4 linked regions of the Homo sapiens genome follow. The protein of the gene in region 1 purifies or fractionates together with the protein of each later gene. This does not show direct contact. Each region holds a gene or a part of one and is shown on either strand. Other genes may lie near its edges. The genes, in order: BTNL8, TMEM106B, ATRN and CNTNAP3.

Region 1 (7,965 bases):
GTTCATAAGGAAAACTATTTTGACAGTGGGGAAAAAAAAGAAATAAAGTATCGATACAAGCAATAATTTGGATAGATCGCAAGAGCATTATGCTGAATTTAAAAAGTCAATCTCAAAAGGTCACCTGCGGTGTGAAGCTGTGTATGTAACATTCTTGAAATTACAGCATCAGGGAGATGGAAAACCCCAGGCAGGGGCTGAGAAGGGGTGGGTGTGACCATGAAGGGGTGACAGAGGGAGATCTTCGTGATGATGGGGTAGTTCTATACCTTGATGTGATGGTGGTTACCTGAATTTAAACATGTGACAAAACACATAGAACTATACACACAAGACAGAAGGAACGTAGAGTATAGAATGCTGCCTTCTAACTAAATGACCTAAAATTTTAAAATTTCCTTATTGAAAAAAACACTTATAAAGTCCAGGATGGTTCTTTGGGACAACTAAGTTATGAAATATGAAACTGACCTGACACCTGTAGCTCCCAGATGGCCTTCTGGTAGTAAGACTGGGAACTAATCCTGCACCCATAGAGGCCAGCATCCAACACAGTAATGTTTTCCAGCCTCAGAGAGATGCGCCCCTCCGCAATAGAATCCTTCACCAGTTTTGTCCTGCCTTGATACTGTGGCATCTGCATAAATGGCTGGTCCTTCCCGTCCCTGTAGAGGTGGACCACGCTAGAGAACTGGCCCCTGAAGAACCGCACTTCCATGGCCTCTGCATTGGTCTTAGGAGACAGGAAACAGGAGAATGCTGCGTCCTCCCCCACCAAGGCCTGGACAGGCTTGTCTGGCCCAAACACCTGCCACTGCCCTGTGGGAAGACATACAAAAGATAAATCATCAAAACCCTTTGTAGTGAGGGGGAGGAGCCAAGATGGCCGAATAGGAACAGCTCCGGTCTACAGCTCCCAGAGTGAGCGACGCAGAACATGGGTGATTTCTGCATTTCCATCTGAGGTACCGGGTTCATCTCACTAGGGAGTGCCAGACAGTGGGCGCAGGTCAGTGGGTGCGCGCACCGTGCACGAGCCGAAGCAGGGCGAGGCATTGCCTCACTCGGGAAGCGCAAGGGGTCAGGGAGTTCCCTTTCCGAGTCAAAGAAAGGGGTGACGGACGCACCTGGAAAATCGGGTCACTCCCACCCGAATATTGCGCTTTTCCGATGGGCTTAAGAAACGGCGCACCACGAGATTATATCCCACACCTGGCTCAGAGGGTCCTATGACCACAGAGTCTCGCTGATTGCTAGCACAGCAGTCTGAGATCAAACTGCAAGGCAGCAGCGAGGCTGGGGGAGGGGCGCCCGCCATTGCCCAGGCTTGATTAGGTAAACAAAGCAGCTCCAACTGGGTGGAGCCCACCACAGCTCAAGGAGGCCTGCCTGCCTCTGTAGGCTCCACCTCTGGGGGCAGGGCACAGACACACAAAAAGACAGCAGTAACCTCTGCAGACTTAAATGTCCCTGTCTGACAGCTTTGAAGAGAGCAGTGGTTCTCCCAGCACGCAGCTGGAGATCTGAGAACTGGCAGACTGCCTCCTCAAGTGAGTCCCTGACCCCTGACCCCCGAGCAGCCTAACTGGGAGGCACCCCCCAGCAGGGGCACACTGACACCTCACACGGCAGGGTACTCCAACAGACCTGCAGCTGAGGGTCCTCTCTGTTAGAAGGAAAACAAACAGAAAGGACATCCACACCAAAAACCCATCTGTACATCACCATCATCAAAGACCAAAAGTAGACAAAACCACAAAGATGGGGAAAAAACAGAACAGAAAAACTGGAAACTCTAAAAAGCAGAGCGCCTCTCCTCCTCCAAAGGAACGCAGTTCCTCACCAGCAACGGAACAAAGCTGGATGGAGAATGACTTTGACGAGCTGAGAGAAGAAGGCTTCAGATGATCAAATTACTCTGAGCTACGGGAGGACATTCAAACCAAAGGCAAAGAAGTTGAAAACTTTGAAAAAAAATTAGAAGAATGTATAACTAGAATAACCAATACAGAGAAGTGCTTAAAGGAGCTGATGGAGCTGAAAACCAAGGCTCAAGAACTACGTGAAGAATGCAGAAGCCTCAGGAGCCGATGCGATCAACTGGAAGAAAGGGTATCAGCGATGGAAGATGAAATGAATGAAATGAAGCAAGAAGGGAAGTCTAGAAAAAAAAGAATAAAAAGAAATGAGCAAAGCCTCCAAGAAATATGGGACTATGTGAAAAGACCAAATCTACGTCTGATTGGTGTACCTGAAAGTGATGGGGAGAATGGAACCAAGTTGGAAAACACTCTGCAGTATATTATCCAGGAGAACTTCCCCAATCTAGCAAGGCAGGACAACGTTCAGATTCAGGAAATACAGAGAACGCCACAAAGATACTCCTCGAGAAGAGCAACTCCAAGACACATAATTGTCAGATTCACCAAAGTTGAAATGAAGGAAAAAATGTTAAGGGCAGCCAGAGAGAAAGGTCGGGTTACCCTCAAAGGGAAGCCCATCAGACTAACAGCGGATCTCTCGGCAGAAACCCTACAAGCCAGAAGAGAGTGGGGGCCAATATTCAACATTCTTAAAGAAAAGAATTTTCAACCCAGAACTTCATATCCAGCCAAACTAAGCTTCATAAGTGAAGGAGAAATAAAATACTTTACAGACAAGCAAATGCTGAGAGATTTTGTCACCACCAGGCCTGCCTTACAAGAGCTCCTGAAGGAAGCACTAAACATGGAAAGGAACAACCGGTACCAGCCACTGCAAAATCATGCCAAAATGTAAAGACCATCGAGAGTAGGAAGAAACTGCATCAACTAACGAGCAAAATAACCAGCTAACATCATAATGACAGGATCAAATTCACACATAACAATATTAACGTTAAATGTAAATGGACTAAATGCTCCAATTAAAAGACACAGACTGGCAAATTGGATAAAGAGTCAAGACCCATCAGTGTGCTGTATTCAGGAAACCCATCTCACGTGCAGAGGCACACATAGGCTCAAAATAAAAGGATGGAGGAAGATCTACCAAGCCAATGGAAAACAAAAAAAGGCAGGGGTTGCAATCCTAGTCTCTGATAAAACAGACTTTAAACCAACAAAGATCAAAAGAGACAAAGAAGGCCATTACATAATGGTAAAGGGATCAATTCAACAAGAAGAGCTAACTCTCCTAAATATATATGCACCCAATACAGGAGCACCAAGATTCGTAAAGCAAGTCCTGAGTGACCTACAAAGAGACTTAGACTCCCACACATTAATAATGGGAGACTTTAACACCCCACTGTCAACATTAGATAGATCAACGAGACAGAAAGTCAAAAAGGATACCCAGGAATTGAACTCAGCTCTGCACCAAGCGGACCTAATAGACATCTACAGAACTCTCCACCGCAAATCAACAGAATATACATTTTTTTCAGCACCACACCACACCTGTTACAAAATTGACCACATACTGGAAGTAAAGCTCTCCTCAGCAAATGTAAAAGAACAGAAATTATAACAAACTATCTCTCAGACCACAGTGCAATCAAACTAGAACTCAGGATTAAGAATCTCAAAGCCGCTCAACTACATGGAAACTGAACAACCTGCTCCTGAATGACTACTGGGTACATAACGAAATGAAGGCAGAAATAAAGATGTTCTTTGAAACCAACGAGAACAAAGACACAACATACCAGAATCTCTGGGACACATTCAAAGCAGTGTGTAGAGGGAAATTTATAGCACTAAATGCCCACAAGAGAAAGCAGGAAAGATCCAAAATTGACACCCTAACATCACAATTAAAAGAACTAGAAAAGCAAGAGCAAACACATTCAAAAGCTAGCAGAAGGCAAGAAATAACTAAAATCAGAGCAGAACTGAAGGAAATAGAGACACAAAAAACCCTTCAAAAAATTAATGAATCCAGGAGCTGGTTTTTTGAAAGGATCAACAAAATTGATAGACCGCTAGCAAGACTAATAAAGAAAAAAAGAGAGAAGAATCAAATAGATGCAATAAAAAATGATAAAGGGGATATCACCACCGATCCCACAGAAATACAAACTACCATCAGGGAATACTACAAACACCTCTATGCAAATAAACTAGAAAATCTAGAAGAAATGGATAAATTCCTCGACACATACACTCTCCCAAGACTAAACCAGGAAGAAGTTGAATCTCTGAATCGACCAATAACAGGAGCTGAAATTGTGGCAATAATCAATAGCTTACCAACCAAAAAGAGTCCAGGACCAGATGGATTCACAGCCGAATTCTACCAGAGGTACAAGGAGGAACTGGTACCATTCCTTCTGAAACCATTCCATTCAATAGAAAAAGAGGGAATCCTCCCTAACTCATTTTATGAGGCTAGCATCATTCTGATACCAAAGCCAGGCAGAGACACAACAAAAAAAGAGAATTTTAGACCAATATCCTTGATGAACATTGATGCAAAAATCCTCAATAAAATACTGGCAAACTGAATCCAGCAGCACATCAAAAAGCTTATCCACCATGGTCAAGTGGGCTTCATCCCTGGGATGCAAGGCTGGTTCAATATACGCAAATCAATAAATGTAATCCAGCATATAAACGGAGCCAAAGACAAAAACCACATGATTATCTCAATAGATGCAGAAAAAGCCTTTGACAAAATTCAACAACCCTTCATGCTAAAAACTCTCAATAAATTAGGTATTGATGGGACGTATTTCAAAATAATAAGAGCTATCTATGACAAACCCACAGCCAATATCATACTGAATGGGCAAAAACTGGAAGCATTCCCTTTGAAAACTGGCACAAGACAGGGATGCCCTCTCTCACCACTCCTATTCAACATAGTGCTGGAAGTTCTGGCCAGGGCAATTAGGCAGGAGAAGGAAATAAAGGGTATTCAATTAGGAAAAGAGGAAGTCAAATTGTCCCTGTTTGCAGACGACATGATTGTATATCTAGAAAACCCCACTGTCTCAGCCCAAAATCTCCTTAAGCTGATAAGCAACTTCAGCAAAGTCTCAGGATACAAAATCAATGTACAAAAATCACAAGCGTTCTTATACACCAACAACAGACAAACAGAGAGCCAAATCATGAGTGAACTCCCATTCACAATTGCTTCAAAGAGAATAAAATACCTAGGAATACAACTTACAAGGGATGTGAAGGACCTCTTCAAGGAGAACTACAAACCACTGCTCAAGGAAATAAAAGAGGATACAAACAAATGGAAGAACATTCCATGCTCATGGGTAGGAAGAATCAATATCGTGAAAATGGCCATACCGCCCAAGGTAATTTACAGATTCAATGCCATCCCCATCAAGCTACCAATGACTTTCTTCACAGAATTGGAAAAAACTACTTTAAAGTTCATATGGAACCAAAAAAGAGCCTGCATCACCAAGTCAATCCTAAGCCAAAAGAACAAAGCTGGAGGCATCACACTACCTGACTTCAAACTATACTACAAGGCTACAGTAACCAAAACAGCATGGTACTGGTACCAAAACAGAGATATAGATCAATGGAACAGAACAGAGCCCTCAGAAATAACGCTGCATATCTACAACTATCTGATCTTTGACAAACCTGACAAAAACAAGCAATGGGGAAAGGATTCCCTATTTAATAAATGGTGCTGGGAAAACTGGCTAGCCATATGTAGAAAGCTGAAACTGGATCCCTTCCTTACACCTTATACAAAAATCAATTCAAGATGGATTAAAGACTTAAACGTTAGACCTAAAACCATAAAAACCCTAGAAGAAAACCTAGGCATTACCATTCAGGACATAGGCATGGGCAAGGACTTCATGTCTAAAACACCAAAAGCAATGGCAACAGAAGACAAAATTGACAAATGGGATCTAATTAAACTAAAGAGCTTCTGCACAGCAAAAGAAACTACCATCAGAGTGAACAGGCAACCTACAAAATGGGAGAAAATTTTCGCAACCTACTCATCTGACAAAGGGCTAATATCCAGAATCTACAATGAACTCAAACAAATTTACAAGAAAAAAACAAACAACCCCATCAAAAAGTGGGCAAAGGACATGAACAGACACTTCTCAAAAGAAGACATTTATGCAGCCAAAAAACACATGAAAAAATGTTCATCATCACTGGCCATCAGAGAAATGCAAATCAAAACCACAATGAGATACCATCTCACACCAGTTAGAATGGCAATCATCAAAAAGTCAGGAAACAACAGGTGCTGGAGAGGATTGGAGAAATAGGAACACTTTTACACTGTTGGTGGGACTGTAAACTAGTTCAACCATTGTGGAAGTCAGTGTGGCGATTCCTCAGGGAACTAGAACTGGAAATACCATTTGACCCAGCCATCCCATTACTGGGTATATACCCAAAGGACTATAAATCATGCTGCTATAAAGACACATGCACACGTATGTTTATTGCGGCACTATTCACAATAGCAAAGACTTGGAACCAACCCAAATGTCCAACAATGATAGACTAGATTAAGAAAATGTGACACATATACACCATGGAATACTATGCAGCCATAAAAAATGATGAGTTCATGTCCTTTGTAGGGACATGGATGAAATTAGAAATCATCATTCTCAGTAAACTATCGCAAGAACAAAAAACCAAACACCGCATATTCTCACTCATAGGTGGGAATTGAACAATGAGATCACATGGACACAGGAAGGGGAATATCACACTCTGGGGACGTTGTGGGGTAGGGGGAGGGGGGAGGGATAGCATCGGGAGATATACCTAATGCTAGATGACGAGTTAGTGGGTGCAGCGCACCAGCATGGCACATGTATACATATGTAACTAACCTGCACAATGTGCACATGTACCCTAAAACTTAAAGTATAAAAGCAAAAACAAAAAAAAAAACCCTTTATAGTGTGACCTACTCAGGGCTCCATTGGGCTGGGCTGGAGATGTGCATCAGGGGGAAACATTCATCACAATCCTATTTCTAAAGCCAGTGACTTGCATTTGTGTATCTCCTTACATTTGACAAACCATGTCCACATCAGTTACTTCATTCGATCTTGAGGAGCACCTGCAGAAATGTGTATTATTAATGTTTTTATTTTTAAGATGAGAAAACCATGTTATCCAGAGGAAAAAGTCTCTTTCTGAATGTAGACCCTTTGATTCCAGGAGGTTCTATTGCCACATTCTCTCCCATCTGCCCATTTGCTTCAATTAAAAAAAAAACCCAAACATCCCCATTTCCATCGTCCTTGCTGAAAACCAAAGTTGACGTCTTTCTAATGGCCCAGAGAAGAGTATGGGCCATAAAGTCTCCAGTTTGCGGCAATTCGTTAAGGTTTCCTTCAAGCACAATATTATATCAATATTTTATGGCTACTATAGAGGAATGTTACATTTCTGCCCATGGCGCACACAATTATTTGTACTTCCTTAGTTTTTTTTGAAAATCTGCTTGTTCTGCCAAGTTCTGAAAGACATGCTGTGACACTGAAACAAGATTTTGCAGTCTGTTTTCTGTAAATTTGTTCTTTAGCACGTTCACGTGTGACTTATATTTTCCATAGCATGTGCCTTTTACGCTTGTGTAGTAATTTTTTCCACTTTATTTTAGCACTGAAAGGTGGTTCGCCTAGTGCTTTGTCAACATGTCTTGCCTTCATTTTTTTTAAAAAAAATTCTTGGTACATGTATGTCCTCACCTCGCTTTTGAAACTTTCTTCATTGTCTTGCTTCAAGTGTGACAATTACATGTTTTCTGTGAGCCTCCCCTGCACAGCTCTTGGCTCTCTGGGGACAGGGCCTGATTTTCTTGCTCAGCATAGTACCCACTTGATCAGCACAGAGCCAGTCACACAGAACAGGCTCCACAGTTATGCATGTGAACGGTGAGCCCCATTTCCTTTCTTACTTGCTCATCTGTTTAACAATCATTTGAGTAATTTTCCTGGTGTAAATCACTCTTACTACCCTG
Region 2 (7,965 bases), on another chromosome or scaffold:
GATAGGTCCTATGGAAAAGTTAAAAGTTATGAAAAGAATACAGAATTCTATGGTTCATAAGTATTGAAAATATTCACTTCTTTTTTTTAAACCAGATACAGGCTTACAAAATAGCCAGCTATTAACAGTATTTTAGGAAGGAAAAGAAGATACTCGTTGAAGAAGGTTATGTTTTGAAAGTATGTGTGACAAATGACATAAATATTCAAATAAGCATTTTTAGGAAATCCTTTAACTTGAAAAATACACAAGTTACCCAGTAAGGACACAATTAGATAATATCAGATGCATAAAAGTTTATATTTCAGTAAAACACTCTCTGTGAAAAATGTGATTTAACCTTAATCTTAACTTTACATAGGTTGTTACAGATATCAGTGTGGTCTCTGTTTAGATTTATTCTAAAATAAAAAAATGTTAACAAGTTATCAACAAGGCAGAAAACTTGAAACTTGATTTTGTTAAAGAAGGGTATTTTTTTTTTTTTTTTTTTTTTTTTTTTGAGACGGAGTCTCGCTCTGTCGCCCAGGCCGGACTGCGGACTGCAGTGGCGCAATCTCGGCTCGCTGCAAGCCCCGCTTCCCGGGTTCACGCCATTCTCCTGCCTCAGCCTCCCGAGTAGCTGGGACTACAGGCGCCCGCCACCGCGCCCGGCTAATTTTTTGTATTTTTAGTAGAGACGGGGTTTCACCTTGTTAGCCAGGATGGTCTCGATCTCTTGACCTCATGATCCACCCGCCTCGGCCTCCCAAAGTGCTGGGATTACAGGCGTGAGCCACCGTGCCCGGCCGGGTATTTTTTTTTAATTTAAGAATTAAGTACCTTACACTTCTCAAAAGAAGACATTTATGCAGCCAACAAACATGAAAAAAAGCTCATCATCACGGGTCATTACAGAAATGCAAATCAAAACCACAGTGAGAAACCATCTCACGCCAGTTAGAATGGCAATCATTAAGTCAGGAAACAACAGATGCTGGAGAGAATGTAGAGAAATAGGAAGCTTTTACACACTGTTGGTGGGAGTGTAAATTGCAACCATTGTGGAAGACAGTGTGGTGATTCCTCAAGGATCTAGAACCAGAAATACCATTTGACCCAGCAATCCCATTACTGGGTGTATACCCAAAAGATTATAAATCATTTTACTGTAAAGACACATACACACATATGTTTATTGCAGCACTGTTCACAATAGTAAAGACTTGGAACCAACCCAAATGTCCATCAATGATAGACTGGATAAAGAAAATGTGGCATATATACACCATGGAATACTATGCAGCCATAAAAAAGGATGAGTTCATGTCCTTTTCAGGGATATGGATGAAGCTGGAAACCATCATTCTCAGCAAACACACACAGGAACAGAAAACCAAACAGCACATGTTGCCACTCATAAGTGGGAGTTGAACAATGAGAACAGATGGACACAGGGAGGGGAACATCACACACTGGGGCCTTTTGTGGGGTAGGGGGCTAGGGGAGGGATAGCATTAGTAGAAATATCTAATGTAGATGACGGGTTGATGGGTGCAGCAAACCAACATGGCACGTGTATACCTATGTAACAAACCTGCACGTTCTGCACATGTATCCTAGAACTTAAAGTATAAAAAATAAAAAAAAAGTTAGGTGTCTGAAATAGATTTGGGATTAAAATTATTTGTATTTCATCTTTTTGGGGCAACTTAAAAAATGCTATTATCAATATATTCCATTCATGAATCTGAAATTCATGAAATGAAAATAAGAAATCAGTGGTTTCCAATATATCATTTTTAAGGATTCCCTTTGAAGACAAAACATTTAAAATGTATGTTAAAATGGAAAATCATTTCTTAAAAATCAGAAATTACATTTGTCTATTGTCATTTTCAGTGCTATTTAGAAAATATAAATTTAAGCTGACATTTGCCTAGTTATAAATTATGTTTCACCCATAAACCAAAGCAGTTTTGTTGAATCACACTCAGTAAGTTATCACTGAAGAAGTGACTGTACACTACCCTCTAGGCCAATGTTCAGGGGTCCCTGGAAAGGTGAGCAGTCAGGGGCTGCAGGTCTTCTGCTCTCAAATCAAAGCATCTGTTTTGTCACATATCAAGGTTCCTCATAAGATGCTATTTACAAATAAGTATTTCACAAGCTTTAAAAAATTCTGAAAAACCACTGATCAAGGAAACAGAAATCTACCAGAAAAAAAAAAAAAGCCTCACAAACTTATTAATGATTCTTCTCCCTTGAGAAACTGGCTAGGAGGAGCACATTCAGGTAATACATCTTTTCATTTTCGTTTTTCCATATTATTCTACAGAGATAATTTTGGGCACATTCCATCTAATTTCAAATCATACTACCTCATACAAGATTTTAAAAATAGTAATTAAAACACAACCTCTAAGCTGACAAAAATTGTTTGAAAAAAGTTGATGAAAACAAAAGTTTAAAACAAGTTTAAAACAAAAAAACTTGGCTCAAACTTTGTGACTGGGCAACTCCTTTAAAAGTAAACATTCAGAAAAAACATTCAGAAAAAGTTCACCAAGTGTTTGAGTAAGTTTAGAGGGAAAGTAGAGAGGGGTTGGACACGAAGTGGGCATTGAAAAAGATAGAATTGGGGGATAAAAAACATGGGCAAATAATTTTTCTAAGAAAAAAGGAACAGAATGAGCGAAGGGATAAAGGAATGAACTGTTCCCAATGAGAAAGAACTCGATTTGGTCAGGACATTGTTGAAGGGCAATAAGAAATGATTGTGAACTGAGATTGTAGCCAGCTAATGAAAGGTTCTCAACACCAGAGTAAGAACTTGGGCTTTTTCAGTAAAAAAGAAGGAAGTGCAGATATACTTCCTTTTATTGTGCATCACCTTATTGCGTTTTGCAGATATTGTGGTTTTGATGAATTGGTTTCTTTCAATCCTGTGTCCAACAAGTCTATGAGTGCCATTTTTTTCAACAGCATGTTCTCATTTCATGTCTCTGTCGCATTTTGGTAATTTTTGCAATATTTCAAATGTTTCCATTATTATTAAACCTATTTTAATGATCTGTAATCAGTGATCTTTGATGTTTTTGTAAGTATTTGGAGGCAGCATGAACCATACCCATGTAAGGCAGTGAAAGTAATAAAAAAAAGTGTGTGTTCGGACTGCTCTCCTAACCAGCTGTTCCCACATCCCTCTCTCCTTGAGACAAAATAACATTGAAATTAGGCCAATTAATAATCCTACAATAGCCTCTAACTGTTCAAGTAAAAGGAAGAGTCACATATCTCTCACTTTCAATCAAAAGCTAGAAATAATTACACCTAGTAATCAAGCATTTCTCACCAAGGACAATCTTGGAAAGTCAAGATAGGCTGAAAGCTAGGTCTCTTGCACAAGTTGTGAAGGCAAAGGAAAAGTTCTTGAAGGAAATTAAAAGTGCTATTTCCTTACTGTAAGTAATTGAAAAGTGTTCCAGAAAACATGAATGATAAGAAAATCAAACAGCCTTATTGCCGATATGGGAATGTTTTAGTGGTTTCAATAGATCAAACCAGCCACAACATTGCCTTAAGTGAAAGCCTAATCCTGAACAAAGCCCTAACACGCTTCAATTCTATGAAGGCTGAGAGAGATGAGGAAGCTATTGAAGAAAAGTTGGAAGCTACCAAGAGGTTGGTTAATGATGTTTAAGGAGATAAGTTGTTTCCATAATATAAAAGTGCAAGGTGAAGCAGTAAGTGCTGATGGAGAACCTGCAGTAAGTTACCCAGAATATCTAGCTAAGATCATTGATGAAAGTGGTTACAATGAACAATATATTTTCAATGTAGATAAAACAACCTTCTTTTACAAAAAGGTGCCATCTAAAACTTTCATAGCTAAAGAGAAGTCAATGCTTGCCTTTAAAGCTTTAAAGGACAGGCTGACTCTCTTTAGTGGTGAATGTAGCTGGTGACTTTAAGTTGAAGCCAATGCTCATTTGCCATCCTGAAAATCCTAGGACCCTTAAAACTTTTACCTACTCTGCCTGTGTTCAATAAATGGAACAGTCTGGATAATATGACATCTGTTTACAACACGGTTCACTGAATATTTTAAGCCCATTGTTGAGACCTGCTTGGAAAAAAAAATTCCTTTCAAAGTATTACTACTCATTGACAATGTACCTGGTCACCCAACAGCTCTGATGATGTACAAATAGATTAATGTTGTTTTCATGCCTCTTAACACAACGTGCATTCTGCAGCCATGGATCAGGGAGTAAATTTGACTTTTGAATCTTACTATATAAGAAATACATTTTGTAAGACCATAGCTGTCATAGGTAGTGATTCCTCTGATGGATCTGGGCAAAGTAAATTGAAACCTTCCAGAAAGGATTTGCCATTCTAGATGCCATTAACAACATTTGTGATTCAGGGGAAGAGGTCTAAATATGAACATTAACAGGAGTTTGAAAGAAATTGATTTCAACTCTCATGGATAATTTTGAGGGGTTCATGACTTCAGTGAAGGAAGTCACAGCAGATGTGGAAATAGCAAGAGAACTAAAATTTAGCAATGGAGTCTGTAGATGTGACTGAATTGCTACAACTTGATGCCAAAACTTGAACAGATGAGGAATTGTTTCTTATGAATGAGCTAAGAAAGTGGTTTCTTGAGTTGGAATCTACTCCTGGTGAAGATGCTGAGACCACTGCTGAAATGACAATAAAGAATTTAGAAAATTATTTAAACATGGTCGATAAAGCAGAGGCAGGGTTTGAGAGGACTGGCTCCAATTTTGAAAAAAGACCTACCATTGGTAAAATGCTATCAAAACAGCATCACATGCTAGAGACATCTTTCATGAAAGGACAAGGCAATAGATGTGATAAACTTCATTGTTGTCTTAAGAAATTGCCATAGCCACCCCAACTTTAGTAACCACTACATGGATCTATCAGCAAACAACATCCAGACAAGATCCTGTGCCGGCAAAAGGAGTATAAACTTCTGAACATTCAGATGATCGTTAACATTTTTTAGCAATAGTGTGTGTGTGTGTGTGTGTGTGTGTGTGTGTGTGTGTGTATGTATATATTTTATATGGGGTCTCGCCATGTTGACCAATTTGGTCTTGAACTTCTGGGCTCAGGTGATCCTCCCACCTTGGCCTCCGAAAGTGCTGGGATTACAGGTGTGAGCCACTGCACACAGCCTATTTTTTATTAAGGCATATATATTGTGTTTTTCGACATAATGCTATTGCACACTTAATAGACTACAGTATGATGTAAACATAACTTTCATATGCACTGGGAAACCAAAAAAAGGTGTGTAACTTGCTTGATTATATCACTTTATCGATATGGTGTGGAACCAAACCTGCAATATATCCAAGGTATGTCTATAATATCAAGGGAAATTTCACGTATGAGATAAATTCCAGAGACATTACAGAGGTAGAATGGATAAAGCTTGAGTACTGATTGGAAGTTAAGTGAATGAAAAAAAGAAATCAAAGATAATGCTAAAGTAGAGTTCAGGTAAGGACTATAAGGATGAAAAGGATTAAAGGTAAAAGATTTTGAATATCTACACTGATTTGTTTATGTTAAGGAAATTTCAAAAGCATAGCCAAAATACATAAGTGATACAAATTTTATTTTTCATGCTGAAATTTTTTTACAAATTTTATTGCGTCATACACAACTACAAGAGTAACAGTTATAACTGAATTAAAAAAATAGCATTTTGGGGGCATTTCTATTTGTTTGCTATTATAAGCATGTTTTGTTACATGAACAGCAATAATAATTACAATTACAGAACTGCTCAATTCATAAATGTAGTAAGTGTGTCATGATGGAGGCTACTACATAATATAAACAGTAAATGCCCAAACATATTTTCATATTCTATATTATTTATTATATAACTAGAATCAAGGATTAGAATCTAGGTAATACCATCATTCAAATATCTGACCAAGTCAATCAAGTGAGCAAGCACGTCAAATCATTTTCCAAAATCTGTTATAGTTTAGTTCTAAAGAAAAATATAAGATGAAACACATAAGGCATGGCTTGTTAATAATTTATGCCTAAAACCATTATATAATAAAAATCTGCATATTTTGCAACTTGGCATTTGTTTCATCTGACACAATAATAAAAAAGATGAATAGTACTATCAGCACTTGGAATTACCCAACTACAGCTGATATAGTACCTCCCAGACTTCTAGTTTCTAAAATTCTGGGTGAAGTGGGACAATTTGAACTATAACAGTCTACATGGTAGTAATATTACCTTTTGGCCACTGGCTCAATACTAATCCTTTTTTGTTTTTTAATATATAAAATATGCTGAAATTGTATCTCTTAAAACACATTTCAATTAATGTAATTAAAAACAGAAGGGTAACAGCTTCCTTTTAGAAGACTTAAGACTTAGTTATGAAAAATCTGCCATATTTGTTAAATTAATCCAACATTTTTAGGGTCAAATATAGATCATACTACATTTTTCAATTTAGAGTCTGTGATAAATACTTGTACAAATAACTATAAACACAACCAAATTACTTTTAAAAATGGAAATTACCATTTTTATCTCTTTAGTAACTTTAATCACTTGATTTTATCCAATTTAAGGACAAACTTCAAAAATCCACTGTGAAATTTGTATTCCGACTAAGCACAAAAATACACAAATGTTAGTTCTAGTCAGAAATTTAAGCTGACAAGTGAAAATCTCACTTTGAAAGTAGATCTGGGACACAGAAGTTAAATTTTTGATCTGAACACATCATAAATATATTGTTGTAATGTAAAAATAATTTTTTAAAAGAAATGTTTAACAGTCTTTTTACTCCACCATCTCAAACATGTAAAATTTTTCCCTAAAATAGTCTAAGATAAACATCTCATCTGAAACCCGATTTTATAAAAAAGAGAGAATAAAACTAATTACTCTTATATGTACTTGAGCCAAGTAGTTGCTGCTTCCAGATGTGAGCTAAAAATCGTGACCTAATGACATTATGGTAAGCAACCTTTTGCTTATAACCCTAGTAACTTGTAATTCAATTCCTATTGCTTATCAAAGACCCATATGTATTTGTAAATTTAAAAATTTACATCTTTTAAAAAGTACCTAACAAACTATTTTCTTAAATAAAATATAATTATTATATAAAGAACTGTTTATTCTAAGAACTTTAAAAGACAAACAAAATGGGGTGCGGGAGAGTTGGGCACATGCCCTCCAAGAAAATATCTAGAATTATATCACAATAATAAGGCTAAGAACCATGAAGGATTTATTAGGCTGAAGTTTCAAGTCTCCTAATATGTTACTTTAATTGTGTTTTTGATGGTCTCCTACCTATTTGAACATTGCGGTGTCCTTTCCAAACTGTAAATCAGACAATCTGAAGTGTGTTATATTTTATTGTCATTTTCTTAGAGAAAATAATTGCTTCACTGGCCTAACAAGGCACAGAAAAACTGTACACAAATAAAATATAGCCATTTAAATGTTCCATACTTAAGATGGTTATTCAGTAATTTCAAACAATTTATGTGGTATCTAATATTTTCATACTATTCTTATTTCAAATCTCAAATAAATTAATCTCTATTATTTATAAATAATTTCCTTAGACAATGGATCAGTCTTATCTTTATTGGAATGATGAAGGGGTACTAAATTTTAACAGAAAATTAAGCTAAAGATTATGTTCCAAAGCATTTTATAAGTGTTCATTCTCCATTTAAAATATTTTAGAAAACAATGCTACCAAAATCTTAGTCCAGCAGTATTAGTTTGTCACTACTAACTATTTGAACTTTCCTCTCATTTTTAATCATACCAATCTGAGTCAGCAGGGATTTCCAATATATATTTTAAATGATAGAACACAGATATGGGAGACAGAGATACTTGATCTTGCTCCAGTTGTACTACTTAGTAAGTACGTGATCTTCA
Region 3 (8,653 bases), on another chromosome or scaffold:
TCACGCCATTCTCCTGCCTCAGCCTCCCGAGTAGCTGGGACTACAGGTGCCCGCCACCACGCCCGGCTAATTTTTTGTATTTTTAGTGGAGACGGGGTTTCACCAAGTTAGCCAGGATGGTCTCGATCTCCTGACCTCGTGATACACCGCCTCGGCCTCCCAAAGTGCTGGGATTACAGGTGTTAGCCACCACGCCTGGCCTACTGAGTTTTTTTTAAAAGACCAGAGTCATAAGTTCCTCCTACTTTCATTTTTAAAAATGCAAAATCCCAAAGCCCACAAAATATAATGGTATCATCAGGACCAAAGTCATAATTGTCTACCCAGGAAACAGCACTGACATCACCTAGAATCAGCTCAAAGGGAATGTCCACAATAAGCAGGGGAGTCCCTTCACTCACCTGTGACACTATTTGAGACAACCAGTGTCAGGACTGCCTGTTCCCTGCAACAAGTAGCTCTTATCCAATCCTCTGGGCTTTCCATGTGGACTCTCAGAGAGAGCTCCCTGGCAATCTCCCTCATAGGTCGATGACTCCAAACTTAACATCTGCCAGGTGTGTACTCTGAGAGCACCCCAAACTCAGCATGCATGCAATTAAATGTCTAACACCTGCTCCTGTGTCCCTGTGTCTGTTAATGGTATCACTGTCCTCTCAACCACCCAAGACAGGATCTAGTTTTCTTTCCCTCACCATCCCCCACCTTTCCAAGAGCAAACCAGTTTACACGGAAGACTTGTCCATTTCACCTCTACAAGCTCTCATTACCACTGCTCTGACCCATGCCAACAGATCCCACCTAGCTGCCCCCTATCTCTCATGCCCAAAGTGAGTGTACCTACTCTGAACATTACAGATTGATCTTGCTATGAAGTCCCCTTCCCACACCGCTGGTCCCCACTGCCTACCACAGTGTCCCAGGTTTTCAGAACTTGAAGGATCCTCGTCTGACTCAACCATCCATTCACCTGACCTTGGAAGCTTCTCAAATGGAAAATGCCCTGGCCTCACCTTCAAGGCCATTTGTATTCTGGCTCCAATCTAAAAGCCTATAATGTCATGAAAATAGGCGTGAACTACGCCATTTCACAGCTCTTGGGCTAAAGGTCAAAATTCTCAATCCAACCCACAGATCTCCACTTGGCCTGGCTTCCCGCCTTTCTCTCCAGTCTTGCCAAGCTCCCCTTTGCTCTCTCTGCTCCTGCCACCTGGCCTTCCATCCGCTTCAACCCCAAGCCTCTGTACCTGCTGGCCCCTCAGCACCCCACCCCTCACGCAGGTAGTACCATCTCACCCCTCAGACTTCACATCGCTTCCTCAGTGACTTACCTTACCCCTAGACTAAGTCAAGTCCTCTGTTTGTCTCCTGCTCTTTACCTCCACAGCCTTAAACAAAATTACAATAAAATTTTTGTTGGATTTTTTTACTCCCAAGCTGAAATGTGAGCTCCGTAAGAGCAGGACTGTGCCTGTCTTGTATACCACTGTATCTCACAACCTAAAACATAGGAGCCCTCAACAAATACATGTAGGTTAATGGAATTCATAAATCAGAACACCCTAAGTTACAAAAGCAGCTTCACTGCATCAGTGGTCCTGAAGTAACTTGGTTTCTCCATCCATAAAACTAAAGAGCTCATCTGCTCAACGTTCTCTGAGTTCCTCAGAAGACCTAATATTACCTAAGTCTACAATTTTGCTATTCCAAACTCCTCTCTCACAACTCTCTTCCACATAGGCAGCAGCAAAACTTTACTTTCCAGCCTCCACAACTTTGTTTGCACCCTTCTTTCCATCTGTAATTTTTTTCCAGCTCCACATTTCCAAATCCTACTTAACCTTACATGCTCAAATCCAATGTTACCGCCTCCTCAAAGTCCTCCTTGCATCCCTCCAGCTAGCCACAACCTCTCCATCCCTGAATTCCCACAAGTTCCCTGTTGCCTCATTCAGGTCTCAGATCAAATGTCATTTCAAATGAGAACCCTCTCCAAGAGTCACCACCGGTTATAATTCTCTATCAGACCACGCTGTTTTTATTTTCTTGATAGCATTTACCATTACCTGAAATTACCATGTTTATTTCTCTCATTTATTTACTTGTTAAGTGCCTGTTGCTCCCACTAGAATGTTAAGGTCAATGAGAGCAGAGGCCCTGTCTGTCTTGTTCACATTTCCCCACTCCCCCACATCAGACATGTGTTCAGTAAGCTAAATACCTGTCAAAGGCGTGAATGACTCTGTAACCCTTATGACTAGGGTTATGTGCGCACATTATCTTTCTCTTGCTATATTCCAAACTCCCTGTGGACAAGGCCAAAGTCTGGCTAATCTGTCTGTATTATCTGGAAAATCATTGCACAACTGAAGCAAATAACGATAACTGCTAATTAATTTATTGATTTCTCCAAGAGGAACTGCCCCAAACTAAGCCAATTCAGAACTTCATATTGTCCAGAAACCAAGGCAAATAGGAATCTCCTTCCATTCCCTCTTCACCACAGACCCTATTCCAATTTGCCACCTCCAGGGAGCTTTTGCCAAAAGGCTAGTTTCCTCACTTTCCTTTAGAAGGACCACTGGTCCTTCTATCCCTAATATCTTACAATGCTACCCTTTCCCTTTTATCTCCAGCCAACAAAGCATTTCCAGGGCCCTGTTTCTTCAGAGCACCCCACATCTCCAGTGCATCGGGGAACTCATCGGGTCCTAGGGCACATGTGGATGTTAAAAGGAAGTGTTCAAGCAAACCTGGCTCGACCACCTTTCCTTGGATACCTCGTTTAGCTGAAACACGCCGAGTTTTAGAGCGATCGGCTTTGATGCTCTTTGGGTCCCTCAGCATTCTTCCCATCTAACTAACCTAAGCACCCAAATACCGTCGGGGTGCCCCCACCCTTGCCCCACACCTTTTCACCTTCCAACAGAGAAAGACCCCAGGCCAGAGACGATGATCTCCCCGGAAGCAAATGGCCCTCAAACCCCATAGGGCGGCCCTACCCTCTCCACTTTCTGTCCAGCATCTCCCTCTGACCTGGAGCCGTCTCGAACGCCCCTCAGCCCCAGCCTCTGGTTGGACCCGACCCTCCGACACCACCCGCCACTCACCTGAAGCGGCCCCCGCAGTGCTGGCATTGCTCGCCCACCCAGCCGGCGGGGCAGACGCACTGGCCGGTGCCAGGGTTGCAGCGACCGCCGTTGACACAGGGCCGGTCACATTCCTTGGCCTCGGCTGCGGCTGAGCCCGACACCGCCGCCGCCGCCGCCGCGGCCTCGGCCTCACAGGGCAGCAGCAGCAGCAGCAGCGGCGGCGAGAGCAACAACAGCAGCAGCAGCAGCCGTGGCCGCAGCGGTGGAGACAGCAGCCGCGGGAGGCGCAGCCCGGCCCCCAGCCCCGGCCTCCCAGCCCTGGTCACGTCCCAGTCCCAGTGCGGCCCGCCGCTCCTGCCCGCGAGCGCTGCCGTCGCCGCCGTCCTCCTCCTCAGCCTTGCCTCAGTTGCCGCCGCTGCAGCCACCATCTTCCCGGGGCTGAGACGGCGCCCCGCGAACACATACACACACACCGCACGGCCGGCTCCGCTTCGCCTGGCCGTGCGGGGCGGGGCTGTGCGGACGGTGGCTCGTGCGGTCCAAAGGGGCCACAGCGGGGCGGTGGGCGGGGCCGGCGCGCGCGTGCGCGAGTACGTGGGTGCGTGCGTGCGGGGGCGCAGACAGTGGTCTCCGGCGTCCGCGGCGCCGGAGGCGATCTTCTGACGTGGACCGTAGAACGAGCTGAAACCCGGCTGCGCTGTCCCGGCCGGCGAAAGCTCTAGTTTTCCCCCTTCGCCTTTCGTCCCCGGCGGCGGGGTTGCAGCCCCACTGGATGCCTAGGAGCCGACTGCGTTGAGTGTTGCCCTCCTAGAGACCCGGCACTCTGCCCTAACTCCAGCTGCCGGACGGAAAGGGTACAGGAGGCTGCATCGCAGCGAGGTGCTGGGTGCGGTACTGTAGAAGCCAGGCTTCATTCGAGCCTCTGTAACACAAGAGTCAAGAAAGAACACATGTAGAACCTGGCATAGGCCGGGCGCGGAGGCTTACGCCTGTAATCCCAGCACTTTGGGAAACTGAGGCAGGCGGATCACTTGATCTCTGGGATCCGAGACCAGCCTGGCCAACAGGGTGAGACACTGTCTCTACTAAAAATACAAAAATTAGCCGAGCATGGTGGTGCGCGCCTGTATCCCCAGCTACTCCAGAGGCTGAGGCAGGAGGATCGCTTGAGTCTGGAGAGGTCAAGGCTGCAGTGAGCCGCAGTCGCAGCACTGCACTCCAGCCTGGGCAACACAAGACCCTGTGTCAAAAAATGAAGAACCTGGCATGTAGGCTGTGCTCAGTAAATGCCTAATAAACTGAATGAAGACACACAGCCAGGCCTCTTGATAACAGATGGACTGTAGCTGACCAGACCCCCTACCTTTAATTCTGTAAAAGTTTGGAGTTACCTTGCTCCCCACAATTTGCCCTCCAACCATCTTCTCTGAAGAGTGGGCAATATAGAATTAGGAAATGGCGCTCACACAGACCTGCCCCTTCTTGTCTGGTAGTTGTTACTCTGGTGTCCCTCAATGAGACATGTCTTCCATCAATGTAGCCTTTTATGGTCCTTGACCCTGGAATCTGGGCTGGGTCATGATTGAGACCATGAGAAACCATGACTCAATTTCACCAATAGAAGAAGTTGGTAGGAGTAGCAATGTCTTGTTTCTAGCTCTGAGCTTAAAAAAGACCTGGCAGCCTTGGCCGGGCACGGTGGCTCACGTCTGTAATCCCAGCACCTTGGGAGGCCGAGGCGGGCAGATCACGAGGTCAGAAGTTCGAGACCACCCTGATCGACGTGGTGAAACCCTGTCTCTACAAAAAATACAAAAATTAGCCGGGCGTGGTGGCACACACCTGTAATCCCAGCTACTCAGGAGAGTCGCTTGAATCCAGGAGGCAGAGGTTGCAGAGAGTCGTGATCGCGCCACTGCACTCCAGCCTGGGGGACAGAGCGAGACTCTGTCTCAAAAAAAAAAAAAGACCTGGCAGCCTTGATTTTGAGCTGTTGGTGGTCATGAGCTGCACCCCGTTAGCCACCTTGCTGGAGAGAAACCATGTGCAGAGACCACTTGGACTTGGAGAGGGAGAGCTGGGCCGCTCAGCTGGTGGAGCCATCCTAGCTAAGGGATCAGTCATTGAGTGAAGAAGCTATCTGGGTTGGGTTATTCCAACCGTCTGGGCTGTTCCATGTTACCTACAACAGTAACAGGTCTTTCCTAACTGTGACTTATCCAAAATCCTAAGAAATAACTCATTTATCATTTAACCCTTAAGTGATGAATTATTTATAATTTTTCATAAATTATGATTTATGTTATTTTAAGCCTCTAAGTTTTAGAGAGGTTTGTTACTCAGTAATAGATAAGCAGAACATTGTCCGACATAATGCTTGTGCTATGAGGAATATTCCTATGGCACCTACCTCAGAATCTGGGCACCTTACAGTCCCTGGGAAACAAAGAAAAACCCTCATAGACCTGTGGAGCCTCTCAGCTTTACCTCAGAGTATGGAATTTTAAGGTTCTAAGATGGATTTCCACACTCATACCCAGGTCCCACTCTCATACTCAGGTCCTGACTGTCCTCACTGCATCTTCTTCAAGCCTGGTGAAGCTGAATTGCACAAAAGCCTTACCCCCAGCTCTACATCCACACATACTCCCCATTCCTACAGGAAAACTATTGTTCGGCCTAGGCCCTAGCACTGACATTCTGGTTTGCAGGTTATGTTTTTGCCATGTAGGATTTTGAAATTGAAGACATGGCCCTACCCTCTGGCAGGACCCCATCAGATGGGGAGGCTGGCATAGGCCATGCCCTAGCTGTAGGAGACATTGCTCCCCCTAATCTTCCAGGCCAGAAGTGAACCAGCCCTTTCCTTCCCTTCCCTCCCCACAGCAAGACTGAACCCACACTGTGAAGTTTCACATGATTTTACCAACATTCAGGGATAACAGAAAAGGTGTGCATCTGAAGAACAGCAATCCCTAGACTAGATATTGCTACTCTGAAGCCTTAGAATCTTGCTGCAGCAAACATTCTTTCTTACTTCCTTAATCTACTCTCTTCTCTGGTTCTTTTTCCTTAGCTTTCAAACATGCTCAAATTATTTTGTCCTTAAAAAACAAACACGCTGGGTGCAGTGGCTCATGCCTGTAATCCCAGTGCTTTGGGAGGCCAAGGTGGGAGGATCACCTGAGGCCAGGAGTTTGAGACCAGCCTGGACAACATAGTGAGACCTTGTCTCTACAAAAAATTTTTTAAAAAATTAGTCAGATGTGGTGGCGTGCATGTGTAGTCCCAGCTACTTGGGAGGCTGGGGCAGGGGGATCACAGAGCCCAGGAGTTTGAGGCTGCAGTAAGCTATGTTTGGACCACTGCACTCCAGCCTGGGCAACAGATCAAGACCCTGTCTCTAAAAACAAATAAACAAAGAAACAAAATCTTACCTGCTATCTTCTTTTTCCTTTACTGCGTTTATCAAAAAGTCCCCTACACATTCTATGTCTGTGTGATAGATTAAAGATGGCTGCAAATTCTCTTACATTCCTTCTATGGAGAGATCAGGTCTAACCCTTGGCCCCGGCCCCACCCCCACCCCCACCCCCACCCCACTCTGAATCTAGCCTGGCCTTAGTGATTTGCTTGACTGATAGACTATGGTGGAAGTGATGTACTGGGATTTCTGAGGTCCCAGAAATGGGACTTTATGCTAGGTCATAAGAAGTCTTGCAGCTTCCTCCTGAAGTGTCTTGGAACACTTGCCATAAAAGATGTCCAGCTACCCTGAGACCACCATGCTGTGAGGAAGCCAGCCCCCAGCCATTCAAGTCTTCCCAGTTGGGGCCCCAATCATGAAGCAGGGGGGTGTTGTTCCTGCTGAACCCGCCCCAAACTGCAGATACATAAGCAAATAAATGAGCCAACTGGGGACAGTTCGTTACACAATAATAAATTACCAGAATACTCTGTACCCTGGTTCCTCCAAGGACAAGAATAAGTCTTGTGATGTGGACTTGATTAAGAATTAAGAACGACAGTATAATTGTATATAAATGTATAATCTACAACTAGTCATCTATATGTAATACACTAGTATCATTGTCCAGTTGCTTCTCATGAAGGAGGTCACCGTAGTCACCGTAGCTTCAGAAGTGCCTCTGTTGTACCCCAGTGCCTTATCAGCAAGATTCTGCAGCAGTTCTGCCTGAAATCCCTTTTTTTCCACTGGTCTTTGTCATGGTGGTCATTTCCAGGTCCCAGAAACTGTAATGCCAGTGGCAAAGAATACCCAGGCTTTGATACAAATTACTCTAAGTCCAGACACTAAAATAACATTGTTCTTGCCAACTGCATGACCAAAAGGGTTTGTCTCCACTAGGTTAGTGCAGGATGGTTTGAAGGTGCCTATGCCTATTCTTTTTCACTTAAGTAAGGCATCTTACTCACCTTGGCCCTTTCTCTGATTTCATGTCATCTCTTCCTGTTTCTTTGCTTGCATTGTCTCCAAGTCATGGACATAGATGGATTTTATAATTTTTGGCTTTTACTCATGCAGTGTCTTTGGTCAGATTCCCTAGAAGCAGAACCCTGAAACAGGATCTGAGTGCATAATTCATTGGAAGATTGCTCTCGGAAGAAACACAGTGAAGGAAGCAAGATAGAGCCCAGGAGGGGGTTGAGAAAAGATGTGGTCTGGTCTTATCTAGAGTTGAGCTTCAGCCTGATCCTATGGAGAGCCCTAGAGCATGAATTGTACCATAGAATTGATTCCACTTTGAGGTAAGGGAGCAGCATTTTGTACACACATCTCTTTCAGCAGACAACATTCACAGCAGTAAGAAGGATCCTATAAAGGAAATTTGGGAGGGGTACCAATAGATACAAATAGATAGCTCCATGTATGTGTAATACATATAACAAATGTTTGTTTATCAAATACCTACTAGAAAGCAAAGATTGAATACTGCTCAAGTAAGATCTGATTGACCATCTGACTTTCCCGCAAACATCACCGGTCCTCATTCTGCACTGTTTGAAACATCGATACATTTTATTGTCCCAAAGTTATCCTTATACTTTTAGTCAATGTGTGACCAAGCAATTCTCTAATTATAGGTGTTAAAATCTCACCTAGAAGGTAAGGTACTACGTTGCCTGTGAAAGAGGTTGATCCTGAAGGTTTGGAACAAACACAACTGAGAGGGTTCTAGGTAGGAATAAAGTGCCATTGAAAGCTCCAATGGATATCCCACTGTCAACCAACCAGCAATAAGATTCCAATAGTCCTTGGCAGACTGTAAGAGAAAGTGTTTAGGAGTCCCTGATCTGGGAGCATAAAGTTATACCTCTGAGCTGTTGGCAGAGCTCCTGGTGGCCTCCTCAGACAAGTCCCACAAGTACAGGAGTTCACCTTTATGTCAGCTCAAGGGACAAGACGCTGCACTGGGATGAGCACATCAATTTAAAGGCAGAAGACTTGAAATTTCTATTGGATGAGCTAGATTCATGCCCCCTCCCCCAAATTTCTACAACAGAGAACAAAAATTTTCTCTTGTGTATAGATAAGATAC
Region 4 (7,965 bases), on another chromosome or scaffold:
CATACCAAACCCATTATTATTTTATATAATTTGTTCTCTTTTTAAAAAATCTGAGAAAAAAAAAGATCAAGTAAATATTTATAGACTTTGTCTATAAACTCTCTTATTTACCATTTCTAGTTCTCTTTCTTTGTTCCTCTGACTCATGTTACCATTTGGTGTCATTCCTTATTTCAGTACAGCCTTGCTCCCATCTGTCTCCTCTGTGCTGTTTTTTTGTAATATATTTCTATAGGCCCAACAATGAAAATATATACATTATATATTTGTATATTCTCTATTATAGTTTTATACATTGCTTTTTAAAATAGTTAAGCACTGAAAAGGGTAAGAAATATGACATTATACTTTCTTTTATAATTACCTGCACACTTACCTTTATTAGTGCTATTTGTTTTTTGTGTGTAGATTCAGATTATTGTCTGGGTTATATCCCTTCAACCTGAAGGAACGTTCTTTGTTATTTCCTCTAATGCAGGCTAATAGCAGTGAATTCTCTGTTTTTTGTAAGTAGGGATATATTTACTATCTTTTTTAATTTTTAGTTTTTATGAATACCTAATAGTTGTACGTTATTTATGGGGTAGAGGTAATATTTTGATACAACCAAACAATGTGTAATGATCAAATCAGGGTAACTGAGATATCCATCACCTTAAACATTTATCATTTCTTTTTGTTAGGAACATTCCAGTTCCACTCTTCTAGTTATTTTGAAATATACAATAAATTATTGTTAACTATAGTCATCCTGTGCTACTGAACATGAAAGACGGTTTTGCTGGGTGTAAGTTTCTTCATGACAATAGTTTTCTTTCATCTCTTTGAATATGTTATCTCACTGTCCTGTGGCCTCCATTCTTTCAGATTAGAAGGTAGCTGTTGATCCTGGCGTTTCCTTGTATATATGATTTTTCTCTTACTGCTTTTAAAATTTCCTTCTTGACTTTGGCTTTCAAAGTTTTTAATAAGATGTGTCTGGATATAAACTTCTTTGTGTCATCTGTATTTCACTGAGTTTCTGTATCTTAGATTAATGATTTTTATTAATTTGGGGGTGTTTTCAACCATTATTTTTCAAATATTTTTTTCTGATCCTTTCTCTCTCTCCTGGTATTTTCAATTACGTATATATTGGTGTGCTTAGTTATGTCTGATATTTCTCTGATGATCTATTTTTTTCATTATTATTTCTCTGTATTCTTCAGGATACATAATCTCTATTGATCTTGCTTCAAGTTTGCTGACTCTTTTTTCTTTTCTCTGTTAAACTTCCCTGGCTTAACTCATTACTCTCTTGGAGTTATCAAAATTCTCTTAATTGCTTACTGCCAATATCTTCATACCACTATGCTTAAACTTATCCATCCTCTGTTCCAAATAGAAATCAGTTCACTTGGGGAGGGCTACCAAGCTGTGTATTTTCATGGCCTCCCTCTACCTCTTGGTTGAATGTGCCTCACTGCTCTGAAGCTGTGGGGAGTGAGAGTGGCCTGCTCCTTTGTAGTAAAACCTCTGCTTACAAGTAGGGCACAGGGTGGGAAAGGTAACTTCTTGCCTTGCCTCTCCTGGTGGAGAAACTGTTCCTTACAAGTAAGCTGGAGTGAGGGCAATTGGGACACAGGATTTTCCAGCTGCCACACCTGAAGACCTTATGTCCTGGAATGAGGAGTTGGTGTAGGAAGGAAACCCCAGACTTCTCAGCTGTTTCTGCGTGGACAGAGCTTCTGTCCTACAAAACTGGGGATGACAAGAAATGCTGGCACCCAATCTTGGGGTAATGCAGTATCTCTGGAGTAGGACCTGGGTAGAGAGGAAACCTCTGGCTTCTTGGCTATATCCATATAGAGTGGAGCTTCCGTCATACTGAGCTAGGGATGGGGAGGTGCTGGGAGAGGGTCTTGGCTTAAATGCCTCAAACTCTCACTATTATTACTGATTAATAAATGTTTCTTCATTTGATGTATTTCCTTAGGACATCTTCTAAAGACTTTCAATAGTTGTTTTTTAAAATAATAATTTTTACTAGTTATGCTTGTTTCGTATGAGAGAGGGTTTACAGAGCTCCTTATGTGGCCAGCCTGGAAATGCCAGAGTACCAGGTTTTTTATTTGAATGTTACCTCCTCTTTAAAAATCGATTTGCTTTGTAGGAAGCATGAAACAGAGCTCCTGAAGTAACTAGAGAAAAGGTGATTTGAAGACCAACCCTCCTTCAAGGTCAGAATTTAGAAATGTTCTTTTATGCCAAAGATGTTTCTCAAATTTACTGTCTGGATAGAAAGGCTAATCCAAAGTGGTATCTACAGTATTCTGAGAGAGAAAAGTTGAAGGGCTTTCAGATTCTCTTAAAACACTTTATGAAAGGTTGATATTTTAATTTTATATCAAGTTAATTCCAAAAATGTGTTTAGTACACACATACACATACACACACCCCCCAAATATATCTGTAAATAAAAAGACAATGTTGGGTGATGATCATTGTCTTGGAATACTACTCCACTCTTTCCATTTCCATAAAATATAAAGAATTTACTGAAAATCCAGATCATTCTTATTAGATTAGGTAATCTAACTATAACATATGCCCCAGCCACTGGAGGACCATTTTCCATTTACTTACTATATAATGTCTATCCTTAAGAAAATTTTGGGTTATAAAATAACATTCAAATTGCACTTAGCAAATGTGGATTGGGAATGATTTAGAAATCAGCACTTGTGCTCATGAAGGAGTGGTTACTCCTGATGTTGGCTTGAGATATAAAAAGGGCTCTGTATTTGCACCAGAGCTATGAGATTTGTTAGCACAGAGATCTTCAGGAATGATAAAAGACACATGCAAGACCTTTTGAAAATTTAAATGACTTCTAGATAATGAATCCTCAAAATTTTTTTGAAAGTCACACAATTTTATAGTGATTAAAGCCTGTTTTGCTGCTAAAAATAGTAAGTGTAACAGCCCAGAGACACTTAAAAACACAACTACATTTTAGCTCTGATGATTCAATATTGTAAGAGGTTTCATAAAAGTATTATAAATATATTAAATAAGTCAGTACAGAGTACTTAATACTAAAATCAGTCCCTTTTTCCTTTTCTTTTTTTTTTTTTTCCCCAAGACGGAGTCTCACTCTGCCGCCCAGGAGTGAGTGCAGTGGTGCGATCTCTACTCACTGCAACCTCTGCCTCCCGGGTTCAAGCAATTCTCCTGCCTCAGCCTCCCGAGTAGCTGGGATGCCCGGCTAATTTTTGTATTTTTAGTAAAGATGAGGTTTCACCATGTTGGCCAGGCTGGTCTTGAATTCCTGACCTCGTGATCCGCCTGCCTTGGCCTCCCAAAGTGCTGGGATTACAGGCATGAGCCACCACGCCCAGCCCTTTTCTTTTGAAAACATGATTGTACCTGAGCAGAAGCTGTGTGATACCCCACTGCACTCCTCTAAGAAGAGTCAAACATCATAGAGCACAGTGTTTGAGTGATCCTGTTAATGACTGTCAATATTTAAATATTATTTTCCCCTTCTAGTTAGTATGCTTGTTTTATAAGAAAAGACATTTCTATAAAGGCCTTTTGAATCACTTCAAGTCATTGTCACAAGGGACAATGGGTAAGACGATTGCTCAAGCCTAGGAGTTCAAGTCCAGCCTGGGCAACAGAGAGGCTTGAATAGCAATACGTTGTCTCTAAAAATTAAAAACAAAAATAACAATGATGGTTTACTGATGTTAAAATTAGAACAGTACAAGGACAGAGTTTTGAAAACCAAATTATTTCAAGAGGATTAGCATTGAACAGATGCTAGGGGTAACCCAGAGATCTTCTAAATAAGAAACCCAGAGAGGACTGATAGCCTTAAGTTTTCAAAAACAGTCATATCCCTTCTAAATTCAATAGAGGAATTTGGTACAGAAATTATTCCATTTCAAATAATTCAATCTTATCCTCTCTTTATAATATCAAATGCCAGAAGCATTCTTCATGTTATTTAAGTTTCATGTACTTTCCCTATAACCTGCTCCTTGGTCACACTTACCATTGGAGCAGAACGGCCCATCATAGGCTGAGAAGGCACAGTCACAGGTGACCCCCCTGCGTTTCTCTCTGCATCTCCCTCCATTGCGACACAAGTGTCCATAGGTGCTGCAGTGTCCTGCACACCCTGGCTCCACTCCTGGCGTCACTGTGGCTCTTTCTTCCAGATCCAGGGCCACCCCGTTCAACTGCAGAGACCGAATGCATCCTAGAAAGCCTCTCTGTCTGGTGGCCGTTCCACCTACAACGGAAACACTGCAAATAGAAATGTGTTCCTTGGTATTTTATTCAGGATTTTATGTCCATGTCAAACTCAGGCCTTATGGAGAGTGGCAATAATCACAATGTGTCAAAAAATTTTGTGAACATACACAATTTTGAAAATGTAACTGTTATGAGACATGAAGCTTTAAATGACATTGAATAAAACACTTATTTACATAACTTTCAAACATGGTGAGTCTGGCAAATAGTCCTAAAACATTTCCTTAACTTCAGGTAAGAAAGAATTTCACTTTAGTTCCTTCACAAAGAACAAAATACATAATATAAACCACATCAAACACTATTCTACTTTGTTTAGGAATAAGAATGTGTATTCATCAAACATTATTTTAATTTCTTTATGAATAAGAATGTGCATTATAATGGTTAGGTATGAACTTCCAAATTTTTCACAATAATAAAAATATATATGGATAATTTCTTACTTGGATGGACTCTAAAAATAAAGTGTGAAAGGAAATGGAGAGGCAAAGGAGGGGAAGTTGGAAGGGGTGACACCGTACCCCAGGATCTCCTCCTCTCAGAGGGTACAGTGCTAAACAGTAATTGAATACTGCATGCATGCACATTTTGTCATGTCAAACTTGAATGCTGAAGAAACCATTTAGAGAGGTTTACAACACCTGTGTAGTGACAAACACCATTATGAAGGCGACAATTCTCAATGTTAGGAGCATGGAAATTACCTAGAGTTTCTGGAAAATGCAGTTTTTAGCCTCCTCCCAGAGATTCCAATTCGGTGGGCCTAAGGTGGGGGCCCCAAATCTGAACTATCAATCAGCTTTGTGGGTGATTCTGAAGCCAGTGATTCATCCACCGCAATGAATGCTGATTCTAGGTGAATTTTACGCTAATTGTGTTTCTAGGCATTCCCTTAAATAATCTCCAAGATTACAAGTGAGAAAATCAAGTTCTTGGTTTGACCCCTCCGTGTAGTCCTCCTTTCCAGTAGTTTGATGGTTTCATGTCCTTTGAAAAAGCCTCACTGCACCTTAATAGAAGAGCTAACCACGCCTGAAGCTAGGTTTTAGGAAGTCATGGTATAACACCCCATCCACATCCACATACATACGTGGGTTCACGTGTAGCATTTAGTACCTGGAAGTTGTATCTACCCTTCCCTGTAAATTAGGTTGGATGATAATTTGTGATTTAGTCCAGTTTTAATTAGATTGCATCCTTATTCACTTTAAAACACTTAAGAAATGAACAAGTGAGAGCTTTAATCTGTGTAGCTCCTAAGTTAGAATAGTTTCAAAAGCAATATGGAAAAATAAACAACAGTGATAAAACAGTAAGTAAGCAAACTAAAGGAAAGACTTCCAGAGCTATCACCTTTAAATAAATGGAGTGCAAGAACAGATGAGCCAGACCAGGTTATAAACAAGGAGCCTGTGATGAGAGAGCCCCAGAAGTGAGAACAGCAGCGAGGAAAACCGGGAGTGGGCTCCTGGAAGCCTGGCCGCGGGGGAGGTGCGCAGTGCTGCTTCCAATCAGCGGGTATCCTGCGATCTGGTTTTGAGTGGACCCTGGAGGACTTCTGTCCCAATTACAAGCTCTCTAACTCCACCGAGAAGTGAAACTGAAGGAATGGATAAAAATGTCTAATGATCTCACTAATAGTGTTGATAAAATATAGCTGTCACATATGCCAATCCTCTGCAATGTGAATGGTTCAAGTTTGGGGGTCGGCTATCCTGGGATCCCTCTCATTAGCTGGTTACTCCACTTCTCTGAGGCTTGGCTATCTCATCTGTAAACAGATGACAATACCTAAACATTGATACCTAAACACTGAGATACTGCAGGGCCCGGTGGCTCGCGCCTGTAATCCCAGCACTTTGAGAGGCTGAGGTGGGTGGATCATCAGGTCAAGAGATCACGACCATCCTGGCCAACATGGTAAAACCGTGTCTCTATGAAAAATACAAAAATTAGCCAGGCGTGGTGGCACCTGCGCCTGTAATCCCAGCTACTCAGGAGGCTGAGGCAGGAGAATCGCTTGAACCCGGCAGGTGGAGGTTTCAGTGGGCTGAGATTGCACCACTGCACTCCAGCCTGGGCGACACAGTGAGACTCTGTCTGAAAACAAAAACAAAAACAAAAACAAACAAACAAAAAAAGAAATGTCAAATAAGAAGCACACAGCAAGCTCCTGGAACCTACCAGGTTATCAGCAAATAGTACCAATAAGCAGTAGTTGTTGTTGGCAACTGTTGCTCTCAGTACATCACAGTTCTTATTTTCTTTTGGTCCCTCTCTGGACTCACACTAAATTCAGTTATAAACCACCAGCACTCACCAATGAAGAGCTGGCTGTTGAGCTGTAAACGAACGTGCCCATCAGCAGGGGCAGGCTGCATCTTCTGAGGAAGCTGATCAACTTGAAGAGACGCTCCTTTAACATTTCTCTCTGCCCTCACGTGGTGCCACTGATTGTCATTAAAGGGAGTGGGTGACTGCACCGTGACCTCACAAGGTCCATTCCCCACATCGAAGGAAAAGGTCACTTCTGTGGGAGCTAGAAATATTAGATATGAATATTGCTCAAGCAAATTCACAGAAAATTGAGTCTTGTGCAGACACAGGAAAACATGAAGGCACGCTCAGGATGGAAGGAGATAATGACGGCGATGCAGAAAAACGGGACTGTGAGTTGGGGTGGGGGCAGAATAAATCTGTATCCTGGAGGAAAACAGAACGGATTTTAACATATTTATCCTCAGAGTTCACAATTCAACCTTGTTAAGTCCTAAATAGTAGAGATATGTACCCATAGCTGGACTACCCATAGCTATGTACCTATAGCTAGAATACCAAATAGTATTTGTTTTTGAGGTTTCAGTAATTTTATTTACAAACGGCTCAAAGTCTCATCTAATTCTATAAACACTGAATGTAAATTTTGACAGTCATAAATTAAGCTTTGGGTACATAAAAAACAATATGTCTGGTCAAATATTTTTGGAATTCAGTAAACAATGTGATGAGTTTGGTTTAAAGCTCTGGCTCTGCTGTTCTGTACTCTAGGGAAGGCATGACATTTTAATGGATTATTACGTGCTTCATGCTTCATTGTTTTATTTTCTCTTAAAAATGATTACTGGCTGGGTGTGGCAGTTCACACCTGTAATCCCAGCACTTTGGGAACCCGAGGCAGGCAGATCACTTGAGGCCAGGAGTTGAAGACCAGCCTGGTCAACATGGGAAAACCCCACCTCTACCAAAAATACAAAAATTAGCTGGGCACGGTGGTGCCTGCCTATAGTCCCAGCTACTCAGGAGACTGAGGCAGGAGAATTGCTTGAACCCAGGAGGCTGAGGTTGCAGTGAGCCAAGATAATGCCACTGCACTCCAGCATGAGTGACACAGCAAAATCCTCTCTCCCTCTCTCAAAAAAAAAAAAATTACCTAAAATCATAGAAGTTTAGTATTTTATAATGAAATAGAATCACAAAATAAGAATGAAATACTAACATTTTGTTGAGTTAAAGCTTTTATTGCTAAATAATGGGTACCCTGTGACTTGTCCAGAGTGGCGAGCTTACCACGCAGCTCAATCCTGATGAAATCTGTGATCCCCAGGTTCTCCATAAACACCCCGGAGGAAACTGTGGTCTTAAAAAAGAAGCACACGTCAG

The links.
Region 2: the proteins of BTNL8 (region 1) and TMEM106B purify together in Homo sapiens (affinity purification with mass spectrometry; 3 studies listed by BioGRID and IntAct, with this or other methods). This does not show direct contact.
Region 3: the proteins of BTNL8 (region 1) and ATRN purify together in Homo sapiens (affinity purification with mass spectrometry; 3 studies listed by BioGRID and IntAct, with this or other methods). This does not show direct contact.
Region 4: the proteins of BTNL8 (region 1) and CNTNAP3 purify together in Homo sapiens (affinity purification with mass spectrometry; 3 studies listed by BioGRID and IntAct, with this or other methods). This does not show direct contact.

The regions. Positions count from the first base shown.
Region 1 is NC_000005.10:180,901,440-180,909,404, reverse strand, and holds part of BTNL8 (butyrophilin-like protein 8 isoform 2 precursor), read right to left. Parts: intron 7,060-7,965; exon of another isoform or gene 7,031-7,059; coding exon of another isoform or gene 7,009-7,030; intron 6,984-7,008; exon of another isoform or gene 6,908-6,983; intron 820-6,907; coding exon 472-819; intron 1-471.
Region 2 is NC_000007.14:12,234,917-12,242,881, reverse strand, and holds part of TMEM106B (transmembrane protein 106B), read right to left. Parts: 3' UTR 1-7,965. UniProt on the Homo sapiens protein: In neurons, involved in the transport of late endosomes/lysosomes. May be involved in dendrite morphogenesis and maintenance by regulating lysosomal trafficking.
Region 3 is NC_000020.11:3,465,975-3,474,627, reverse strand, and holds the start of ATRN (attractin isoform 1 preproprotein), read right to left. Parts: upstream 3,611-8,653; 5' UTR 3,556-3,610; coding exon of another isoform or gene 3,521-3,555; coding exon 3,111-3,520; intron 1-3,110. UniProt on the Homo sapiens protein: Involved in the initial immune cell clustering during inflammatory response and may regulate chemotactic activity of chemokines. May play a role in melanocortin signaling pathways that regulate energy homeostasis and hair color.
Region 4 is NC_000009.12:39,095,872-39,103,836, forward strand, and holds part of CNTNAP3 (contactin-associated protein-like 3 isoform 1 precursor), read right to left. Parts: coding exon 7,873-7,965; intron 6,845-7,872; coding exon 6,626-6,844; intron 4,280-6,625; coding exon 4,040-4,279; intron 1-4,039.